Linked DNA regions of Homo sapiens: region 1 is linked to region 2. Evidence: fine-mapped expression QTL. A gene starts in region 2. The other region holds a variant in brackets. All regions are shown on one strand. Distances are from middle to middle.

Region 1 (11,573 bases), 25 kb before region 2:
GTCAAAAGTAGATTCTACTGCTATGCAGACTATTTGAATTTATACTGGACAAATATACTCAGGATTTTTATTAGTTCTTTTTCTTTTCCCTTCTATTATTCAGTTCCTCTGAGGGGTTGCCATTATAAATTTAAATAGCATACTAATACAAAAATTGCTTATCAATTCAGATGCTATCGATTCCCATTGTACATGAGTAATTTACCATATCACATTGAATATGGTATATCCCACTTCTCTTCTCCTCTCCCGTACTACAAGCCACGCTATTTTTAATTATTCCAGTGGCTGTGCTTATGATTTGAAACAATATGCTTAAGGTACCGTTCCTGATATATCTTTAAACAATTATGTTACTGTCAAAAAGATTAGACAATAAGTGATTTAATCTTCCTTAAACTCTTCCCATTCCATCTCATAACATTTTGTTCTAAATATAATTAAATCTTTTATATCCTACTGTCCATTTCTACAAATGAAAAAAACCAATAGACAGCATTTTATATAACTTCAATGATCAAGTAACAGCGATTACACCTATAAAGAAGAAAAAATTCTACACATTCATACTTTGCAAATGGGAAGAGATTCTTCAAAGCATTTCCACTTTTAACAAATGTCTACTTAAAACCTACTGTGTGCTAAGCATTTTTCTAGGTGCTAGGGATTCAGCAGAGAGCAAAGCCTGCTCTTTCAGCGGTTATCTTCCAATATGACAAAGGCTATCTAGAAATTTTATTTTTTTTTAGCTTCCTTCAATTCTCCAAGGTCAGTGGTTCCCAACCAAGGGCCCACACTGTCAGGCGTGAAGGACCATAATGCGAATTAAGTAGGCAGGATGAGATGGCCAAAAGTTCTGATCCTCTATAAACAATGCCAACCTGTGTGACATAAAATGCACATAGGGTCCCTGCTGAGAGATATTTGTTCTAGTATAACCAGGTGCTACGGGTTGTTGTTCTTTCTTGAATTCTTTTTCATTCTGCTGAAACATTTTAAGTATGGTTTCATGAACAGTACGTGGCTAAGCTCTTTTAAGTCTACACTTCTTTTACTCCCCCGACCCTCCAACCCACCTCACTGATATAATTAAACACTCATCTTTACAGGTATAATTCCATAAACCACTCCTCTCCACCCCTCTCAACCCAAAAATAAGATTTTAAATTTGAGTATCCAGGGTTATAGAATTCTGATGACAGTCTGATTCTCCTTTCTTTGTAGGTAATTTGTCTTTTACTCAGGAAGCTTTTAAAGATTTTGTCTTTGTCCTTTTTTATTCTTTTTTTTTTTTTTTAAGACGGAGTCTTGCTCTGTCGCCCAGGATGGAGTGCAGTGGCGCAATCTTGGCTCACTGCAACTTCCGCCTCCTGGTTTCAAGTGATTCTCCTACCTCAGCCTCCCGAGGAGCTGGGATTACAAGTGCCTGTCAGCACGCCTCGCTAATTTTTGTATTTTTAGTAGAGACAGCGTTTCACCATGTTGGCCACGCTGGTCTCAAACTCCTGACCTCAAGTGATCCTCCCGCCTCAGCCTCCGAAAGTGCTGTGATTACAGGCATTGAGCCACCAAGCCCAGCCTTTAATTTTTTTTTTTTTTTTTAAGAGACAGACTTCTGTCGCCCAAGCTGGAGTTCAGTGGCACAATCACGGCTAACTGCAGCCTCAACTTCCCAGGATCAAGCAGTACTCCAAACTCAGCCTCCCAAGTAGCTGGAATACTGGCACTTGCCACCACACTTGGCTAATTTTTAAATTTTTTCTAAAGGCCAGGTGTGGTGATTCATGCCTGTAATCCCAGAACTTTGAGAGGCTGAGGCGGGCAGAGCTCTAAGTTCTAAACCAACCTGGGCGACATGGCAAAATCCTGTCTCTACTAAACAAAGAAAAATTAGATGGGCATGGTGGCGCATGCCTGTAGTCACAGGTACTTGGGAGACTGAGGTGGAAGAATCACCTGAGCCTGGAAAGTCGAGGCTGCAGTGAACTTATGATCACACCACTGCACTCCAGCCTGGGCAATGGGAGTGAGACCCTGACACACACATGCACGCACACACACACACGTAAATACAGGGTCTATGTTGCCCAGGGTCACACACACACACACACACACACACACACACACGTAAATACATGGTCTCACTATGTTGCCCAGGGTAGTCTTCAACTCCTGGGCTCATGTATTCCTCCCATTCCATCTGAAAATATTTATCTGTTTTTGTTAATCATTCCTCCTTTTGATTATTGTTTCCTGTATTCTTTTAACACTCTTTCAGAGAAATACTGGAGCACCTCTCTTTCCATCACATCTTTCCCATTCTGTATTTTCATCTCTATTGCTGCACATTTGAAATTTTTCTCTAATCTGAAGTTTCAGATCATCAACTGGATCTAAAACATGACATTTTATTAATCTGGTTACTCAGATTTTTAAATTCTGATAATTATGTCTCTAATTTCCAATAACACTTTCTGGTTTTCTGTTCTTTTTACACAGGAATCCTTCCTAACAACACAAATCACAATTTTGTTTTGTATTTTTAGTTATCTTCCACACCCGGAATTACAGCTTCTTTTAATGGGGTATTGGTTATTCATTCATCAAGCTTGATTTTACTCAAATATATCAAAATTATGTTTTCAAATATAATACAAATACTAACTAGCATGGATTTCTCCGACAATTTGAAGCTTCACCAATACCCTTCACTCTAAAATAGAGGGCCTGACATTCCAAGTTTTATATAAGCAGACAGGATATGACAGGTTGGCTCCTCCACAGGAAGAGCCTTGTTGGCTGGCAAGGCAAGCCGAGGAACTCCTGTTGCCAAAATAATCAGTCAATAAAAAATATCTAGCAATGACAAGAGATGAAATTAGGTTTTTAAAGTCCTTGTTTGTTGTCATAATCAGGCTCAAGAATTTAAAGAAAAACATGAACATAGGAAGGAAATGAAAGAAAGATACGGTAACTATAGACCTCAATGTAAATTTTAGTTAAAATCTCCCCAAACTTGGGGAAAGCAGGTTAGTATAACCCTTCTAAACTTACTATTCAAAATTGTTGTAACCAAGTTAGATCCTTTACCTGATCCTAGACTGGATTCACTACTAGAAGAAAGCAATAAGCAATTCCATGGATCATCTGACAGAATATTGTGGTTATGCAAGATAATACCCTTATTCTTTCCTATAGGAAAAAAACACTATAGTTTTCTGGGGGAAAGTTATCTCAAGTGGTTCAAAAGAACCATAAAGCAGATGGGGAAGCATGTTAATAATAAGCGAATCTGGATAAAAGGTATGAATGTTTCACATATTCTTATTCCCCCCAAAATTTATTTATTTTTTTTTTACTTTTATTGTTTTTTGAGACAGAGTTTCGCTCTTGTTGCCCAAGCTGGAGTGCAATAGCACGAACTCGCCTCACTGCAACCTCTGCCTACCGGGTTCAAGTGATTCTCCTGCCTCAGTCTCCCGAGTAGATGGGATTACAGGCATGTGCCACCATGCCCGGCTAATTTTTTGTATTTTTAGTAGAAAAGGGGTTTCAACATGTTAGCCAGGCTGATCTCAAACTCCTGATCTCAGGTGATCCTCCTGCATCGGCCTCCCGAAATGCTGGGATTGCAGGCGTGAGCCACCATGCCCGGCCTCTCCCAAAAAGTTTATTTACGACCAAAAAGATGAAGCAAAAGTATAGTTACCAATACTTTCGCATCTAACTACAGTTTATTCTGTTATACTGTCTCAGGCACCAATATATTTGGCCATTTTCCTAATGATGGACATTTGAACTGCTGCCATTTTTTTGGGGAAAAAAAAAAAAAACTATTGATTGCTCCTAACATTCTTATACATGAAAGTTTCTATTAGGTATGTATCCCAGAAAACAACTGCTGAATTATAAGGTAGATTATGTTCAACTTTACAGGAAAATACAAAACTGCTTCTTGAAGTAGATTTATCAATTTAGATTCTCATTTACAACTGTGTAAGAGGTCTTGTTGATCTACAATCTTTCCAATACTTGATACTGTCAAACTTCTTAATTTTGCCAAATGAATGGATATAAAATATTCTCACTGTAGTCCTGACTCGTATTCCCTCATTTTTCGTAAGCCTTTATATTCTTATTAGCTACATGTTTTTCCTCTCATTAAATGCCTATTCACATCTTTGACTATTTTTCTATTGGTTATCTTTTCTTAAATTAATTCACAGAATTTCTATATATATTCTTTTAAAAATATATTCATTTATTTTAGAGATGGGCTCTCATTGTGCTACTCAGGCTGGTCTCAAACTCCTGGGATGAAGCAATCCTTCTGCCTCAGCCTCCTGGGTAGCTGTGAATACAGGCATGCACCACCACACTAGCTTATATACTCTTGATAAAAATCTTTAGTCAGTTAAGTTCAAATTTCTTTTAGTCTTTTAAGAAACATGGCTGCTGCTGCTTTTTTTTTTTTTTTTTTTTTTGGACGGAGTCTAGCTCTGTCACCCAGGCTGGAGTGGAGTGGTGCAATCCTGGCTTACTGCAATCCACCTCCCTGGTTCAACCAATTCTCCTGTCTCAGCCTCCCGAGTAGCTGGGACTACAGGCATGCACCACCATGCCTGGCTAACTTTTGTATTTTTAGTAGAGACAGAGTTTCACCATGTTGGCCAGGCTGGTATCAAACACCTGACCTCAAGCAATCCATGCGCCTGGGCCTCCCTCCCAAAGTGTTGGGATTACACATGTGAGCCACCATGCCCAGCCAGGCCTCTTAAACTTTCTTTAAAGCATCTTTTGATGGACAGATTTTAATCTAATCAAATGTAGCAGTCTTTTGCAATTAGTGCTGCCTCCCCCAAGGTTGAGTTTAAGAAACCCAACCTTTACCCAAGGTTTCCAAGATATTCACTTGGGGATATAGTACATCCACATACCAGAAGCTTTGAGAAATTCCAGCTAAATACATGACAGATAAGGCCATATTAAAACCAGACACTAATAATGACTTACAACTACTTTTATTTAAAAAAAAAAAAAAAGGCATAAGTAGTAAAGAAAATCCTAGTAAAATACCACTAATTTGTTCTTTTCAATGAAGTGAAGGACCTAGAATAGACAGGCAGCACATCCTTCCTTCAGCACTAAAATGACCAAAGTATTTGAAAGCAGTTATACTGGGAAGTCCAAATGCAAGCACAAGCATATCAAAGAGAAAATCAACAAATGAAAATACAAATTCTGCCTACACAAGGCTAAAAGTACCAGGAAGAAAACTGGACAAAAACACATGGTACCCTATATGCTAACCAGCTAACAAGCAAGGAAAACTGGTTTCTAACACAGTGGTTTCAAACTTAAGGGACAGTCAAATACCTAGCACAACCCATTATACTGGCTTTCCCTTTTAAATCTCCACAGGCTGGTCAATCACTTAACTGGTAAAATCAATTTACAGCATGACTCTCCCATCTCCACATTTGCAAAGAGAAAGGTATATGCAACTAGCATCCAGCAATGAAAGAAACGGGGTGGGGAGGGTAAAAGTACCCATTCTGAGACAAATAACTGAACTCAATGATTCTCTTACTGGTTCAATGACTAAACACAAAAAGCCCAAAGACAGTCCTGAAGCCACCACAACCACAAAGGA[T/G]ATTACAAAATTATGAGTCCAGATGAGTGGCTGTCAGGGCTTAGGCATGGGGGAAGCATGGAAAAACAAAAGGCTAGTATATAAGGGAGGGTTTGGGGGATGACGAAACTGTTCTGTATCCTAACTGATAGGGTGGTTACACAAATCTACATATGTTAAAATTCATAGAGCTGTACGCCCCCGCCAAAAGTGAATTTTATTGTATGATTTAAAAATATACATATTTTAAGTATACACAAATTCTTATAGGAGCCTTATTTACATTACCCCCAAAAGGAAAACATCCCAAATATCCTTCAAAGGATGAATGGAATAGACACAATGGTCATCCATCCATGTAATAGAAAACTACCTAGTAATAAAAAGGAACAAAGAATTGAGTTACACAACGACATAGATGAATTGCAAAGATACCATGCTGAGTGAAAGATAAACATCTTAAAAGATCATATAGTACATAATTTCAATTATGACAATATGGAAAATGTCTTATAGGGACAAACAACCAATCAGTGGTTCAGTAATGAGAGGGAGAGAGAGGGCTTGACTATAAACTGGCTGGTCAAGGAAATTTACAATTTTATTATATTTAATTTTTTTTAGAAGAAAAAAGATATAAAGTTTCTAAAAACATTAAGTACAGAAAGCAGACATAAGTTTTAAACACAGTCTTTTGTGCTCAATAAAATCAAGATGAATTCTAGGATCAAGGGATTCCATTAAGAAAACAGAGTTAAGAGGGGGAGCTGAATGTGATAATAGAAGCAAACAAATACTATCAGTGAAGAATGCAAAACCTCACAAATCACAGAAACAGCACAAATAAAATACACTGAAAAATATGTGAGCAGGAAAATTCAAATCCTCCAAATGAAGAGAAAAAGAATAAAGAACCAACAGAACTCAAGGGCAAAGATTCAACATATTTGTTGACATTAATAGAAAAAAGTGGCCTGCAGACAAAGGATTACAGAAAACAATATTCATATTGTACACGTTTTCACATTTACATTCATAATGTAAAAATAAAGAAAAATCTTTTGTGCACACACCAAAAAAACAGCTATTTACAAACAAAAAATGTAGGCTGGCCTCAGAATTTTCCATAATATAAAACCACATAACTGTAAAGCAAGGCTTATACATAGTACTTTAAGTGAAAAGGCTGTTGACTAGAAAGAATTCTATACCCAGCTAAATGGTTGCTTACATATTCTGACCAAAGACATTTTATGGATCTAAAGGCTTGCTAATAAATAATAAGTTAAACAAGGTTCAAAATAGAGCTGTCAAAGGTGGGTTAGGCATTAAAAAGGGTGGCAGCAACGTGACAAAAGAAAAACTTCAGCTGAATTAAATTTAAAGGAGATTAACTGAGCAATGAATGTGATTCACGAATCACAGAGCCAGCCAGAGTAGGCTCTGACATTCAAGCACAGCCCTGTGGTGGAAGTTTTATAGACAGAAAAAGGAAAAGTGATATACAGAAAACGGAAGTGAGATAAACAGCTGGATTGATTACAGGTTGGTATTTGCCTTATTTGAACAGTTGGCTACATTTGATTCAGCCAAAATTTGGTCACTGGCACAAGAGTAGGCTGCGGTCTGTTTATACCTCCACTTGTTATAGTTCGCCATGTACAGAAAAACCTTTAGGCTGGACTTAAAATATGTAAGGAGGCGGCTTTAGGATAAACTTTATTTAACAAAACAATGAAACAATATAAGGGTAATATTAAAGTTTAAATCACTGTTGTGTATATGGCTACAATATATATAATAATACAGCTACAATATATACCTGTCATTAAAAATTTCCTGAAACAACTACATAATATTAACATACCAAATACATTATAACAAAACCAGGATTAAATTTTCAAGTTTGGTAGAAAAAAAAAAAGACACAGAAGGGTGATTATCTCCTCAGTGGTGGGCGAAAGAAAAGTTGGTATTTCCTTGCCATGTATCCTTTGTCCTAAGTAATCTCATCCCACTTCCATGCTATTAACTGTTTAAGAACAAAAGGTCCCCAAATCTGTGACTCGGACATCTAACTGCCTAATCAGAGATTTTGCTGCCTATATTTCTCAAAGGTATCTTAAAATCAGCACAATCTAAAAATGAAGTCTTAACTTGCATCCCACCTTTCATACCTCAAATCATTTCTCCTGATGCGCTACTTGTAATGGCAGTTACAATATGACCACTTTACTTAACTGCTAAACTGAAAGACTCAGTAGCTACTTTTGATCCCATTTCTCTCATTTCTCATATTTAAGTGGGAGAAAACACAATTATATTCAGCAACCCATCTAAAAGGTTCAGCAGAGCCTTAAAGTCATTTGTATTAATTACTCCAAAGCAAAGTTTCCAACAATCCAACACAGCAATCAATAACTAGCACCAGAATCACCTGGAATGTTTATACTTAAAAAGTACACTGCAAGTTCCTTTATCAAATATACCAAGGGATGGGTCTCGAGAATCTGCAATTTCAATAAACACCCCAATTAACACTTATGTGACTTAAGGTTTGGAAACTACTGCTCTAGGGTCATTATTCCAACACCTTCCCTCTGAGGAATGTTGAAGCACTTCCCTGTGCTGCACACAACCACAAAGACAAGATATTCAGCTTCACACACAGAAACAATCACTGATTTTACATAGAGTTAAGTTACCTCTTTATCTTAATTTCTACATAGGAACAAGCATTCCATAAGAACATGCTTTCCATAGTAACAAGCATTATTTACTGGAGGAGCTTCTAACTTTACCCCTACTAAGTTTCAAAAGAAATTTAAATGTATCCCCTATAGAAAAGCCCATCCATTTTCTCTTTCCACCTAAAAATAGGACCCCAATTTTACGTTACAGTTTGGAAGAGAAAACTTTCCCTAGTTGAACTGACTCTTGTGGCCCTGTGATCAAAGTCTAGCCAATATTTGGGGGGCTAATCCCCATATGGGCCACTCAATAGGATATTTTTAAAAAATAAAAATAAAAATATTCTGGCCAATATAATACAAGGATAAACAGCATGTTTTATTTCAGGAATGTCTCCCTCAATCTTACAGAGGGTATATAACAGAATTAGGAATCAAATTCTGCAAAGCCTCTATTTTGTACAAGTGCTTTAAGTATAAAAATTATAAAAATACTTCAAGAGTTTTATGTTTTAAAAACATATTTTGCCAGGCACAGTGGCTCATGCCTGTAATCCCAGCACTTTGGGAGGCCGAGGCGCACGGATCACGAGGTCAGCAGTTCAAGACCAGCCTGGCCAACATGGTGAAACTCGTCTCTATTAAAAATACAAAAATTTGGCAGGCATGGTGGCGTGTGCCTGTAATCCCAGCTACTCGGGAGGCTGAGGCAAGAGAATCACTTGAATCCGGGAGGCGGACGTTGCAGTGAGCCAAGACCACTCCATTGCACTCCAGCCTGGGCGACAGAGAGCGACTCCATCTCACAAAAGAAAAAAAAAAAAAAAAAAAAAAATATATATATATATATATATATATGTAATTTCTTATAAACACAAAATTAGAGTAAAACATTTATTTAAAAGTTGTTTCAGCTGGGTGCAGTGACTCAGGACTGTAATCCCAACATTTTGGGAGGCAGAGGGGTAGGGGCAGATCCTTTGAGCTCAGGAGACCAGCCCGGGCAACATGGTGAAACCCTCTATCTACAATAAATACAAAAATTAGCCAGGCGTGGTGGTGTGTGACCGTAGTCCCAGCTACTCGGGAAGCTGAGGTAGGAGGATCACTTGAGCCCAGCAGATCAAGGCTGCAGTGAGCCATGTTCACGCCAGTACACTCCTGCCGGGACAAGAGAGACCCTGTCTGAAAAAAAATTAAATAATATATAAAATATAAATAAATAAAAACTTGTTTTAAGTGCCAGGTTCAGTGGTACAGGTCTGTAGTCCCAGCTACTTGGGAGTCTAAGGCAGGAGGATTGCTTGGGGCCAGGAACTTGAGGCTATACGCCATAACTGCACCTGTGAATAGCCACTGCACTCCAGCCTGGGCAACACAGCAAGATGTCATCTCAAAAAAAAAGTTGTTTCAAACTCTAAATATATTTTCTCCTATGTTAGTATGATTAATAATATTAATGATTAGAGCCCCTGGTTAGTTCATGAAGTCTGTTTAGTTACAAATGCCAAAATTCATTCAGCTTTGATGATAAACACTGAGGCCCAATGGCCTTTATCATCTAGGGAGTATGAAGAATGAGCAAGAGGCTAACTCAGCGTGAGTTACCCTGGGAAAGGAAAGAAGAAATGGTTCATATAGGACACACATAGATACCTTCAAGGGTGTTTGTAGAGTTGTTTCTTAAGTAGTTGGTTTCCTTCACAGAAAGTTCTTAAACTCAGAATATACCCATCCATGCACCCCACCAGCAATACAAAGACCCCAAACAAAAAATTACTATATTCTTACCCTACGCATGGCTTCCTCCTCTTCTTGACGCTTTTCATAATGTGCAAAGTCATCAAAGATTGAGGTGGTATGCTTGAAAGTAGCAATTATTTTAAGCACTTGCTTAGCTTTTTCTAGGGGTACCTCTTGAGTGTCCCTTGAATTGGTAACCGGTTTGTTGTCATTATTTTCTAAGCGAATATGCCGTAATTGGTTATTGGGAACATCTTTGACAAAGATCCATTTAACTTCAAATTTGCCCTTCCACTTATCCTGAGACCAGACACCAGCATACGCATTATAGTCCACAACAGACTTCATTTCAGCCACTCCACAAAAATGTCCACTGCCATTCACACTGAAGAGTAAATAGAGTGGGCCTTTCCCATTCAGGGAACGGTAAGCTGCATCCAAACGCTTATTACCATGCTCAGTACTACACCAGATAGAGTATTTAATGGAACGATGTATGTCATCCTCAGAGTAGCTTTTAATTATAAACACACGTCCATTCTTCAGATTCCAATCAAAGTCTTTGGGATTATAGTTGTTTATGGCCTTTAGCTTTTCCAGCACGGGATGCACTTCTACACTAGAAGGTGAAGCACTGACAGGTACAACACCTAAACCAAAGTTTTCACTGCCCGCTCCATTGTTCTGGTTGAAGCCTGCTCCCCTGTTACGAGGAGCTACCCAGCGATTCTGCAGCTGCTGCTGTTGAGGCTGCACTTGGTGAGGCTGGGCCTGTGGCTGAGGTCCTTGTTGCTGCTGTGGTTGTGGTGGTTGAGGCTGCTGTTGAGGCAGTTGGCTTTGCACCAATGGTGGTGGTTGAATTAATGGCTGAGGCTGCTGGATTATAGTTTGAGGAGGCAGAACTGGTTGGGTTGGTGGAGCCTTTACCACTGACCCTTTTTCATCCCAAGTTCCAATATTCATGTTGTGTTTTATAGGAGGTGGTGGTACAGCAGAACCCCCAATTCCCACATTGCCCTTGGGTTTAAGTTTCGGTTGAGGTTTGGCAGGCTTTCTGGCAATGGCAGCCCAGGAGGTTGGTTTAGGTGCTGCACTGCTAACTGGGGGCACACTATTGGTTGCAATGCTAGTCATACCACTGCTGCTCAAAGCTGTACCTACAGTTTTTGTCACTGCAGCTGTCAGGTCACCACCAATTTTCAGTCCAGTCATGCCTTGCTCAATACTGCTAATGCCAGGCACCTTACTCAAAGTATCATTGCCAAATCCAGCCTGTCCATCAGTAATAGCTCTCCCAAGAGAACTAGGTGGATAGCCATAACTGCTACTATAAGCAGAACTTTGTGTTGATTGTCCCTGAGATCCACTTGTCCCCCATGTAGAGAAATCAGCATTACCAGGAAAAAAGTTAAATCCATGTTGACCAAGAAATGGAGGGGTATTTCCTAATGCCCCAGGTTGACTAAATACACCATCTGGTATATAGTGATGTTCTCCATTACTCATTT
Region 2 (11,573 bases):
TAAATATAATCCTGTTATTCTTATTTTTTTTGTTCTATTATTTCTCTTCTAAGAGGCTAGGCCTGAGAACAACCCATATACTATTATAAATACAGTCTACGGTCATTTTTAAATGATGCATAAATGTCTATAAAGTCTTAAAATATAGTACAAAAAGTCAATCTACTTTAAAAAATGTTTAATTAAAAGTACTTCACATATACCGAGAAGCAATTTGCATTAAACTAGCCCTTAAGTTTTGGAAGTGTATCTTAAAGAAAACTATCTTAAAGACTTTCGTTTTTGAATATTTACTTAATGACAAGCTAATGTCTTGGAGTCTGAAAACCATTAAATAGAAATGAAATCCAAGCTAGTTCCATAGTCTGTAAAATTTCTTCAGGGGTAAAAAGAACAGATGACTTACATGATTCTTCGCCTGTTTCCTCTGCTCTATGAAACAGAGTCAAATCAAGATAGAACATGGGCCTTAGGAGCCAGGTGATTCTTTGCTCTGGTCCTGACTACATCAAGTTAGGAAAGTCAACAGATCTGTGCATCATGTTTCCCCACCTACAAAAACAGCGACAATACCATATACCCGCTATCTCCTTACAAGGATGTTGTGAGGATTGATAAAATGAAGCCTAAAATAATGATAGTAAAGTGCTTTGAAATCATTTCTCGGGAGGACGAGGAGAGAATACAACAGAATATTGCCAAAATATAAGGCATTTTCCACTACTTTTCGAAAATTAAAACTTAGCCAAATTTAACCTAATTATTTTAAATTACAGTTGTATAAAACAATGCATACGTCTCTCCGTTGGAAGAGAGCGGAGAGGAGGAAAAAGATAAATCCTGTTCCATGAATTTGCTATTTATAAACTTAGAGGAGAAAGGAGGCAGTAAGGCCTAAGACTGTAAGTATGGCATCTGACACTTCCAACCATAGTACTCCCAAATAAAAGTACTGCACACCTTTATTCCAATAAGCAAAAATTCTACTTAATAAAAAAATAAAATACGAAGTGTTAAATTATGAACCAATAGGCAAATAATTATCCTTAAATTTCTACTATCCTTTGGTACTACTCTTGCCAAGGATAATAAAGAGTTCTGATATTTAACACAGGGACAGACTTAATTAAAAAAGAATTCAAACTTATAAAACAAGTAAACCTTGAATTATTACTTATTCTACAAAAAACATTTTTGCCATATCAAAGACAATTATTTAGAATTCCTTTTGGCTTCTGTAATGAATTAAGTAATTAAGGATATATAGAAAATCAAAGACACTAAAACTAGGTGTTAGGCTAAAGCTGTCAACTAAAGACAATTCAGAAAAGAAACAGGATCTCTGAAATTATAGTAAGTTGACTGAAAAGGATTACGTGTTCAAAACTTTAACTGACACCAACTTCTCAAGGACATACTATTTTTCATAAGCTTGCTAAGTTCAGAATTCAAGATTACTCATATTTAGAATACTGAGGTTGCAGTTCAAGAAAAATAACTTCATGAAAGTAAACAGAATTGTAAAACAATTTTACGAGCTGGGAACAAGCTAAGGCAGAAAAGCTTTTCTCAAATACACACATAGCTACTTATATCAGGTTCACTGGTAGTGTTGCCTTTGCCTTGTAATTCTCCCTGCAGTCATAAAAATACAAGTAACGTATATTTGTTATTTGTGCACTTGTAGCATCTGCCATTTTTAAGAAACTTAAATAATTAGCAATACTTTCAGGCCAGTAGCATTTTTCCCCTCCTGCCAAGGCTCCATGCAAAGGAGTCTTCCTGCACCTTAAAAATAGATTAAGTGAGGAAAGTGAAAAGAAATCCAGCAAATATAATTGCTACTAGAGCAGTGAACTACTGTAATTACAAGAATCCTAACAACATACTATAGGAATTATGGGAATTATGACTAGAGTTATTTTTATTTTATAGAGGGGAGATTCTGACAGACAGGTAAAATGTTTTCAAGCTCACTTGGCAAGTCAGTAGCCAAAGGCAGTATTAGAACTCAGGACTCCAAGGAATCCCAATCCATTATTCTAACCTTAGATGAAATTATTAAACTGAACAACAAGGGGGAAAGAAAGAAAATTTCTTGAGAATAAAGAACTATCAAAATAAACACTTTGTGTATGTGTCTGAATACAACTAACAGAAGCGATACTGATGGATAAAAATTTTTGAAATAACCAAAAAATACTTATTTGCAAACAGTGGATGTATTATGCAGTTTATAGATAACTCAACTCATATCTAATATCAAAGATGCCACCAGTGCCTACCTAAGTGAAATGACCACTCATAAATCAAACTTATTTTACTGACTTACAGTGCTGTAGAGGCTCTATTTTGTTTTAACAAACAAGTACCTCATAGAACTTGTGTACTTACCTTAAAGCGGGTAACATAAAACACTTAGCATTTCAAATAGCTTTGCAAAGTGCCACCTCCCCACAGATCTAGGATAAAATAATTTATGCTAGGCAATAATGACCACAATTTCACAATCTCCAAGTCTACATAGTTCCTAATGGGTAGACTAGCAAAAGAAGAAATTAATGGATCATTCTTTTTAAAATTCACAAATTTTTAAAAACTCATTTAAAATAAATCAATATCCAATTTTTATTTCAGGTTTATGCTTACAACAAAAAAAATTCTAGAAATGAAATTTTAAAAATTAAAATGTCTAAATATTTACATACTGCAAGAAAACATCTTTAATGAAAACAAACAAAATGTTACCTAATATGGTGCCATGTAACTGGTATGTACAAATTCCATAATTCAGAGGAAACTAATCTACATATCCAAAACCTATTAAATTCACCAAATTTGCAATAGCAAATAAATACCCTAACAAGAATTTAAAGGGCACCAAAGACAATCTATATCTAAAAGGCTATTATAGATCTTAATTTCTAACACTGTGTTACTGAAATCAACAGAAAGCATAATTTTAGTGTAATTTCAAGCACTACAAAATGTTATATATAATTTGCTCTGATGTTATTTAATTGGCACTATCCCAAGAAAGCAGTTATTGTTCTATACTTAACTAAATGTCACATGACTAATGTCATAATGTTTCAGTCAGCTGACTGCACTGTTCCATATTAATACAAAACACACTTTTTAAAAAAACACTTTACTTTCAATGGTACTTTTACTAAAGAGAAAATTATAAAATCCTGGAAAAAATGTCACAAACTATTTTCTTCTCAGCCCTTTATAAAATACCAGATAGAGTCACACCTTGCAATCAGAACAATAGAGCAAGATGGCATGCCTACTCAGTTCTAACCTCTCTCATGTTGTTGCCTCATTACAACTGACTTCAATAGAATCAGTGATTAACAGTACAATTTTCATTAATGTGATGGAATACTATGTAGACTTCCATTTTCCAGTGTAATCCAGACATGTCAAACAAAATGTCCACTTTAAGAATATACTTGTCTATATACACATGTAGAAATTTTTTGTGGCATAAGTTACATAACACAGAAAAACTGGAAAACCAAAGAAATACCACCAGGTTCACACCAATACCTGCTTAACTGACAAGGAAACTGTTTCTCGTACTACTTTGGTTTCTATAAAGTGGCTTCAAAGCAACGAACTACCGAAGTTCTGGATAGAACTTGGCTACCTTAGCCATGATGAATATTTTCCCTAATCCTACATTTTTTCCCAAGAGGGAGCAAAAACAAACAAAATACCCTCACAGAGTTTAAAAGTAACATTAAGGCAACATTGAGCAATAAGAAAAAAAAAAATCCAAACTCACCTTTATTTCCTTGCCCTTTAGGTCTCTGTGTTGCAAGACGAAAGATGCGGTAAAGAGGAGAAAAAGGAAGAAAAGAAAAAGTGTGTTAATCAAAGGCATTATCAAAGACAAGTTATTTTAGACTATCCGCGTAGGAGTAAAAACCCACCATATCCTCCACAGCCACCAATTTCCCAACCACCCCCAGCCTTTAAACCTCCCACCCGCCACTCGGAATCCGTCTCCCAGAGCTCGCCCGGTCTCCGCCCCATGTCTGCCGCCCTCAGGATCTGTCCTAAGGCCCCTAAGACCGGTCCTTGCCCCCACCCGCCGCGGCACCGCGCCCGCCCGCCCGCAAGCTACGGGGCCAGGGCGCACGCCCCGGCCCGGGTAGCTACACCGCAGCAACTTGCGCCCGGGGCACCGTTATGGGGCCGGCAGCGGCGGCGACGGGGAGGAGCCGAAGCCCCGCGCGAGGGTGGAGCTCCGGGGCTCGGGCCTTCGCCAAGCCTGGGGCCTCTGCTCCCTCACCTGATCCACGCTAGTGGCTGACATTCTTCACCGCAACCCGAGAGCCGCCGCCGCCGCCGCTGCCTGGGCCTCTCCCCGTGCACTCACAGCAGTTGGCTGTCGCCCTTGGCCGAGTGATTGTTCCAGCCGCCGCCGCTGCCGCCGTTCGCTGAGAACCCAAAATGAGGGCCTCGCGCTCGGGAGTCGGAGGAAGAGGCCCGTCTTTTCCGCTTGCACGCTCCTCTTCCCCCTCTCGCTCTCTGCTTCTCGGGTCCACAATGGCGGACAGACTCCCTAGTCTCACTTCCGCTCCGAGCCTCCCTGACCTTCCGCTCTCCACTCTGACGTCCGCGCTCACCTCGCTCTTCCTCCCCCACCCTCCCGCCGCTGATCTTGGCTCCGCCTCCTCACCGCCACGTCACCGGAGACCGGACCCGCGCTCACGGCCGGTGGGCGCATGCGTCATGGAGGGAGCGCGTCGGGGCGTCAGCGAGCGCCAACTTTCAGCGTCTTTTCTGCGGCTTCCTTCTATCCCGCTCCGAGGCTGCAGGGCCCTGGCAGAGTGGCGTCAGCTGGAAGGCTGGCCAGAGCCGGATTTTGTTGCACTCCGGGCAGGAAGATGGCCGAGGCGGCGGCTGACGGAGATAGTAGTGCCTTGCTGAAGTCACGGCGGCCGGCGGCGCCCTCCTGGAGGCTGACGGGACGGAGGCAGGGAACTTCCCGGTGAGCCAGCCGGGCCTAGCAGGAGCCTTCGGCGGCTGCCCAAAGCCGTGGGGACGGCTGGCTGACTCAGCCGCTCTCTGGACGGAGTTGCTGGGTCCCCACAAGCCTGCCCGTGCAGCTGAAGTGGCAGGTTAGAGTTGTGGTACTCAAACTTAAGTCCAAGCAAACAGGAGGAGCACCGGCGCGGGTTCAGTCTTTCCAAACCCAGTTCAGCCGTAATCTCTGGAGTCAGACTTCGCCGCCCAATTCATGGATTTGTGCTTTTGACTCCGCTCTGATGTTTTTGAATGAATAAAGTTGCCTAGGATACTTAAGTATAGTTGCAGAGCGTCTTTTCGGCCCTGAAAAGAGGGAAAGTTTCCATTGAAAAAGTTCTTTATCACATATTGGCAAACCCAAAGTATGCCAATTTGCAACGTGTTGACATTTTCATTGAAATATCTACAATAAAGGCAAAGATTCCTTGTCTCAGTGATACAGAGTCCATGGAAGGAAATAATTTAAATGACCAAATACTTTCTGTACTTCAAAAACCATCAAATAAGTGATCATTTAGAAAGTAAAATTGTAGAATCATAAGATTAATTTTGTGGTTTACAGTGCAACAGTATCTTAGAAGCACTGAATAATAGAAAAACTTGAGAGGCCACTTTTCATGTAAATCACCAAGAGGCATTTTTAAGTTCTGGTTAGACAGTTTCCCTTGCCCTTCCATTCATTGCCACGGGTCCCAACCTAAGCACCCTTGCATTTCCCAAGACTCCCCCAACCCTTTCTGCTGTTGCTCTCAATGTCTCCCATCCTTCACTCCCAAACAGACCGTTTTAGTTTTAATGAGTTTGCTGGTACATGCTATGAGCCAGGAACTTGAGAGAGAATATACAAGAGGAGGCTTAAATCTTGCAAGCCTTGTCTTTGATCCTTAGTATCATGGCTTTGGAACCCAATCAATTCGAATTTAAATTCTAGTGGAGCAAGAATTAGTGTTATAATCTTGGTAAAGGCACTGAAACTTTCTAAGCTTTAGCTTCCTCATGAGTAAAATTAGGTCCTTCGTGTACAGTTCCTGACACAAAAGTAAGCTTTCAGCAAATTGTGGCTATATACAGGTAATGAATTGTTCCTTCGCTAAAAGATTCCCGGAAATAGTAATCGCTTACATTTATTGAGAACACATTATATGTCATGTTAATTCCCACAGCATCCTTGCAGAAGTGCCATTATAAAAACTGACACAGTGAGGTTAGGAAACACGCCACAAACAACACAGCTAGTCACTATGAGAGCCAGGATTTGAACTCAAGCAGTGTGACTCCCAAGTTCCCACTCTAATAACTACCATATAATACTGCCTAATGACATAATATTATGAGCTTCTATTCTCTTTCATTTTTGCTCAACAAACTTCTTTCTTTATGGCTTTTCTTCCTAGCAATAATACCTACCCTCAGATATAAACCTACTTAATTTAATATTAACAGACTTTTGAAGTACATCTGGGGACTACCTGAAACCATCTCCAATGCCTCCAGGAGTGTATTAGTCCGTTTTCATGCTGCTGATAAAGACATACCCGAGACTGAGAAGAGAAAGAGGGGTTAAATTGTGTTTAAAGTTCCACATGGCTGGGGAGGCCTCAGAATCACGGCAGGAGGCAAAAGCCACTTCTTACATGGAGGGCAGCAGGAGAAAATGAGGAAGAAGCAAAAGTGGGAAACCCCGATAAACCTATCAGATCTCATGAGACTTAATTCACTATAATGAGATTAGCATGGGAAATACCGGTCCCCATGATTCAATTACCTCCCCCTGGGTCCCTCCCACAACACGTGGGAATTCTGGGAGATAAATTCAAGTTGAGATTTGGGTGAGGACATAGCCAAACTATATCATTCTGCCCTGGCCCCTCCAAATCTCATTTCTTACATTTCAAAACCAATCATGCCTTCCCAACAGTACCCCAAAGTCTTAACTCATTTCAGCATTAACCCAAAAGTCTACAGTCCAAAGTCTCATCTGAGACAAGGCAAGTCCCTTTCGCCTATGAGCCTGTAAAATAAAAAGCAAGCCAGCTACTTCGTAGATACAAAGGGGGTACAGATATTGGGTAAATACAGCCATTCCAAATGGGAGAAATTGGCCAAAACAAAGGGGTTACAGGGCCCATGCAAAGGGCACTCAAATTTTAAAGCTCCAAAATGATCCCCTTTGACTCCAGGTCTCACATCCATGTCATGATGATGCAAGAGATGGGTTCCCATGGTCTTGGGCAAGGAGAATGGAGAGGATATTTTGAAAAATGTTGCCACAGAGCCTAGTTTCTAGGTAAAAATGCACTCTTCTAAAGAGCCACTAGGGTGTGTCAGTCTCCTGGAGCACACAGCACAGTGCAAAGCTTGGAAAGGAGAGGGCAGGCTGGATTTAAGGCCCCATTTTTCCCTCAGCCAACTTTGGTGTTTGTGTGTGCGTGTGTTGTTGTTATTTGTTGTTTTGTTGTTTAATTATAGCAACATGTTCTTGCTATGTTGCCCAGGCTGGTCTCCAACTCCTGGGCTCAAGGGATCCTCCCACCTTGGCCTCCCAAAGTGCTGAAATTACAGACAGTGAAGTTCCAGTCTGCACAACTGTAACTTCTGTATGATTACTTGTATCAGTTCAAATTAGGTTCAGCTACAAGTGGTATCAAGTTCAAAATAACAGGAGCCGAAGATAGAAATCTGTTTTTCTCATACAACAGCAGTCTGGATATACTCCAGGACTTGGGTTGCCATTGTATCAGATAATCCAGGCTTCTTCTAGTCTGTTGTTCCACCATCCTGTTATAAATAAAGTTTTGTTGCCACAAAAGAAGTAGCACTCGAATATAGAATTTACTTTTTAATTCTCAGCAAGGCAAGTTACTTCTACAGAAGGGTGCACCCTTACAGATGGAACAACGGTGAGCACAGACTTAGACAAGGGAAGGGAAGGGGTTCTATCCCTGACGCATGTGGCCCCTTCTGCTGTGTTGTTCCCCTATTGGCTAGGGTTAGACCGCACAGGCTAAACTAATTCTGACTGGCTAACTTAAAGAGACTGACAGGGTGAGTGGTTTGGCGGGAAAAATGGTTATGACAGAGCAGGTAATTGGAATGAGTCAGGGTGGAGTAGGTAATCAGAATGAGTCAGGATGGAGCAGGTAATCGAAAAAGGTTGCTTTATGAGGAAGTTAAGTTTAAAAGTAAAAGGCAAAGAATTGAACATACTGACATATTGATTCTTTGAAAAGAAATTTAGAACTCATATCTAACAATCCTCATTATGATACCTCTACCTGTGGCCCATGATGGCTGCTCAACTTCCAGCCATCCTAATCACATTCCCACCAGCAGAAAAACAAGGTTAAGAAAGCACATTGTTCTCCTTTAAGGACATTTTGTAGAAATTGCATTTTTCCCATTTGTATTAGTCTGTTTTTGCATCGCTACAGAGGAATACCCGAGACTGGGAAATTTATAAAGAAAAGAGGTTTCATTGACTTACTGTTCTGCAGGCTATTCAGGAAGCATGGTCCAGCATCTGCTTGGCTTCTGATGAGGCCTCAGAAAGCTTGCAATCATGGCAGAAGGCAAAGGGGGAGCTAGCTTACACATGACGAGAATGGATGCAAGAGTGAGATGGGGGAGGTGACACACACTTTTAAACAACCAGATCTTCTGTGAACTCAGAGAAAGAACTCAATCATCACCAAGGGGATGGTGCTAAACCATTCATGAAGGATCTGCCCCAGTGATCCAAATGCCTCTCCACCCTCAACATTGGGGATTACTTTTTTTTTTTTTTTTTTTGAGATGGAGTCTTGCTCTGTCGCCCAGGCTGGAGTGCAGTGGCACGATCTCGGCTCACTGTAAGCTCCGCCTCCCAGGTTCACACCATTCTCCTGCCTCAGCCTCCCAAGTAGCTGGGACTACAGGATCCTGCCACCACGCCCAGCTAATTTTTCATATTTTTAGTAGAGACGGGGTTTCACCGTGTTAGCCAGGATGGTCTCGATCTCCTGACCTTGTGATCCGCCCGCCTCGGCCTCCCAAAGTGCTGGGATTACAGGCTTGAGCCACCGCACCCGGCTGGGGATTACATTTAATTGTGAAATTTGGAGGGGACAAACATCCAAACTATATTAACATTTCTGGCTACTTTCTACTAACTAAAACATAGTTTCCTACAAGTATTTAAAGTTAAGTGAAAGCTGGAAAATATATTCTGAGTGGCCATGTGTTCAGTTAAAAATGAGGATGTTTATTACTAAGGAAGAGGGGGAGAATGGGTGGGGGGATACTTAGTAATAAACTCTGTGCCTAGTAATTTCCTGGATTTGCTTTGTTAACTAGCAGCACTTAAACTTATCTTTGAATTTTACCAGTGTTTAAGCCAAAATTTATAAGGCTTTCTGTTATCTTTAAGTAACATATATAGTACATGAACGAAGTGTAGAGAATTCAGCTTGAGGATTGATCGATGCACTTTTAAAAGGAGGTATTCTTAAATATCATGCATAAGGTAAAACCACTAATAGCTAAGAAGGACACTGAATAAAGTAAAAAATCAGTCAATCAATCTGCTTTGAAACAGAAAAGCCAAAACTTTTCCATTTATTCTTAAGTTTACTGCAGAGAAATTTACAATGGTAAGAAAAAGGCAGCAGAAAACATCAAATAACCTTAAGATTTGCTTAAAGCAATTTCTTCAAACTGTTTCCTTGGGACTAGCAGCAACATCTCCTAGGAACTTATTCAAATGCAGATTCTCAGGACTCAGCCCTTATTTACAGAATCAGAAGCTCTAGGGTTGGACCAAAAGTCCATGTATTAAAAAAAAAAAAAAAAAAAAGCCGACAGTGGTGGTGGTGTGTCTGGAATTGGTGGGTTCTTGGTCTCACTGTCTTCAAAAATGAAGCCGCGGACCCTCGCAGCGAGTGTTACAGCTCTTAAGGTGGCGCGTCTGGAGTCTGTCCCTTCTGATGTTCAGATGTGTTCGGAGTTTCTTCCTTCTGGTGGGTTCGTGGTCTCACTGGCTCAGGAGCGAAGCGGCAGACCTTCGCGATGAGTGTTACAGCTCTTAAGGCAGCGCGTCTGGAGTTATTCGTTCCTCCCAGTGGGCTCGTGGTCTCACTGGGCTCAGGAGTGAAGCTGCAGATCTTCGCGGTGAGTGTTACAGCTCATAAAAGCAGTGTGGACCCAAACAGTGAGCAGTAGCAAGATTTATTGCAAAGAGCAAAAGAACAAAGCTTCCACAGCGTGGAAGGGGACTCGAGCGGGTTGCCAATGCTGGCTCGGGCAGCCTGCTTTTATTCTCTTATCTGGCCCCACCCACATCCTGCTGATTGGTAGAACCGAGTGGCCTGTTTTGTCAGGGCGCTGATTGGTGTGTTTACAATCCCTGAGCTAGATACAAAGGTTCTCCACGTCCCCATCAGATTAGTTAGATACAGAGTTTCAACACACAGGTTCTCCAAGGCCCCACCAGAGCAGCTAGATACAGAGTGTCCATTGGTGCACTCACAAAGCTTGAGCTAAACACAGGGTGCTGATTGGTGTATTTACAATCCCTGAGCTAGACATAAAGACTCTCCAAGGCCCCACCAGAGAAGCTAGATACAGTGTTGATTGGTGCACTCACAAACCCTGAGCTAGACACAGGGTGCTGATTGGTGTATTTACAATCCCTGAGCTAGACATAAAGATTCTCCAAGGCCCCACCAGACTCAGGAGCCCAGCTGGCTTCACCTAGTGGATCCCGCACCAGGGCTGCAGGTGGAGCTGCCTGCCAGTCCCGCGTCGTGCGCTTGCATTCCTCAGCCCTTGGGTGGTCGATGGGACTGGGCGCCGTGGAGTAGGGGGTGGTGCTCGTTGGGGAGGCTCGGGCCGCACGGGAGTCCATGGAGTGGGTGGGAGGCTCAGACATGGCGGGCTGCAGGTCCTGAGCCCTGCCCCGCGGGAAGGCAGCTAAGGCCTGGCGAAAAATCGAGCACAGCGCCGGTGGGCTGGCACTGCTGGGGGACTCAGTACACCCTCCGCAGCCACTGGCCTGGCTGCTAAGTCCCCCATTGCCCGGGGCCAGCAGGGCTGGCTGGCTGCTCCAAGTGCGGGGCCTACCAAGCCCACGCCCACCCGGAACTCCAGCTGGCCTGCAAGCGTGGCACGCAGCCCCGGTTCCCGCTCGTGCCTCTCCCTCCACACCTCCCTGCAAGCTGAGGGAGTGGGCTCCAGCCTTGGCCAGCCCAGCAAGGGGCTCCCACAGTGCAGTGGGGGGGCTGAAGGGCTCCTCAAATGCCACCAAAGTGGGAGCCCAGGCAGGGGAGGTGCCGAGAGCAAGCGAGGGCTTTGAGGACTGCCAGCATGCTGTCACCTCTCAGTGGCTCACGCCTATAATCCCAGCACTTTTGGGAGGCTGAAGCAGGTGGATCGCCTGGGGTCAGGAGTTCAAGACCAGCCTGACCAACATGGTGAAACCCCATCTCTACTAAAAATACAAAAATTAGCCAGGCATGGTGGTGGGTGCCTGTAAGCCCAGCTACTTGGGAGGCTGA

The links.
Region 1: its variant is fine-mapped to the expression of YTHDF3 in whole blood (TOPMed, PIP above 0.99).

What each region holds. Positions count from the first base shown.
Region 1 is chr8:63,186,286-63,197,858 of GRCh38, reverse strand. YTHDF3 (YTH N6-methyladenosine RNA binding protein F3) reads right to left here. Exons shown (of 5, transcript NM_152758.6): 4 at 10,114-11,573. Among named protein-coding and RNA genes, the nearest start is that of YTHDF3, 23 kb to the right of the region's middle. The variant T/G (reference allele first, on the strand shown) is at 5,654.
Region 2 is chr8:63,161,632-63,173,204 of GRCh38, reverse strand. It overlaps YTHDF3 (YTH N6-methyladenosine RNA binding protein F3), which reads right to left and starts at 4,584. Exons shown (of 5, transcript NM_152758.6): 1 at 4,304-4,584; 2 at 3,794-3,818. The coding sequence starts at 4,327. YTHDF3-DT (YTHDF3 divergent transcript) reads left to right here and starts at 4,763. Exons shown (of 1, transcript NR_102684.1): 1 at 4,763-5,480. RefSeq lists a silencer at 3,982-4,221 and enhancers at 4,302-4,621, 4,822-5,041.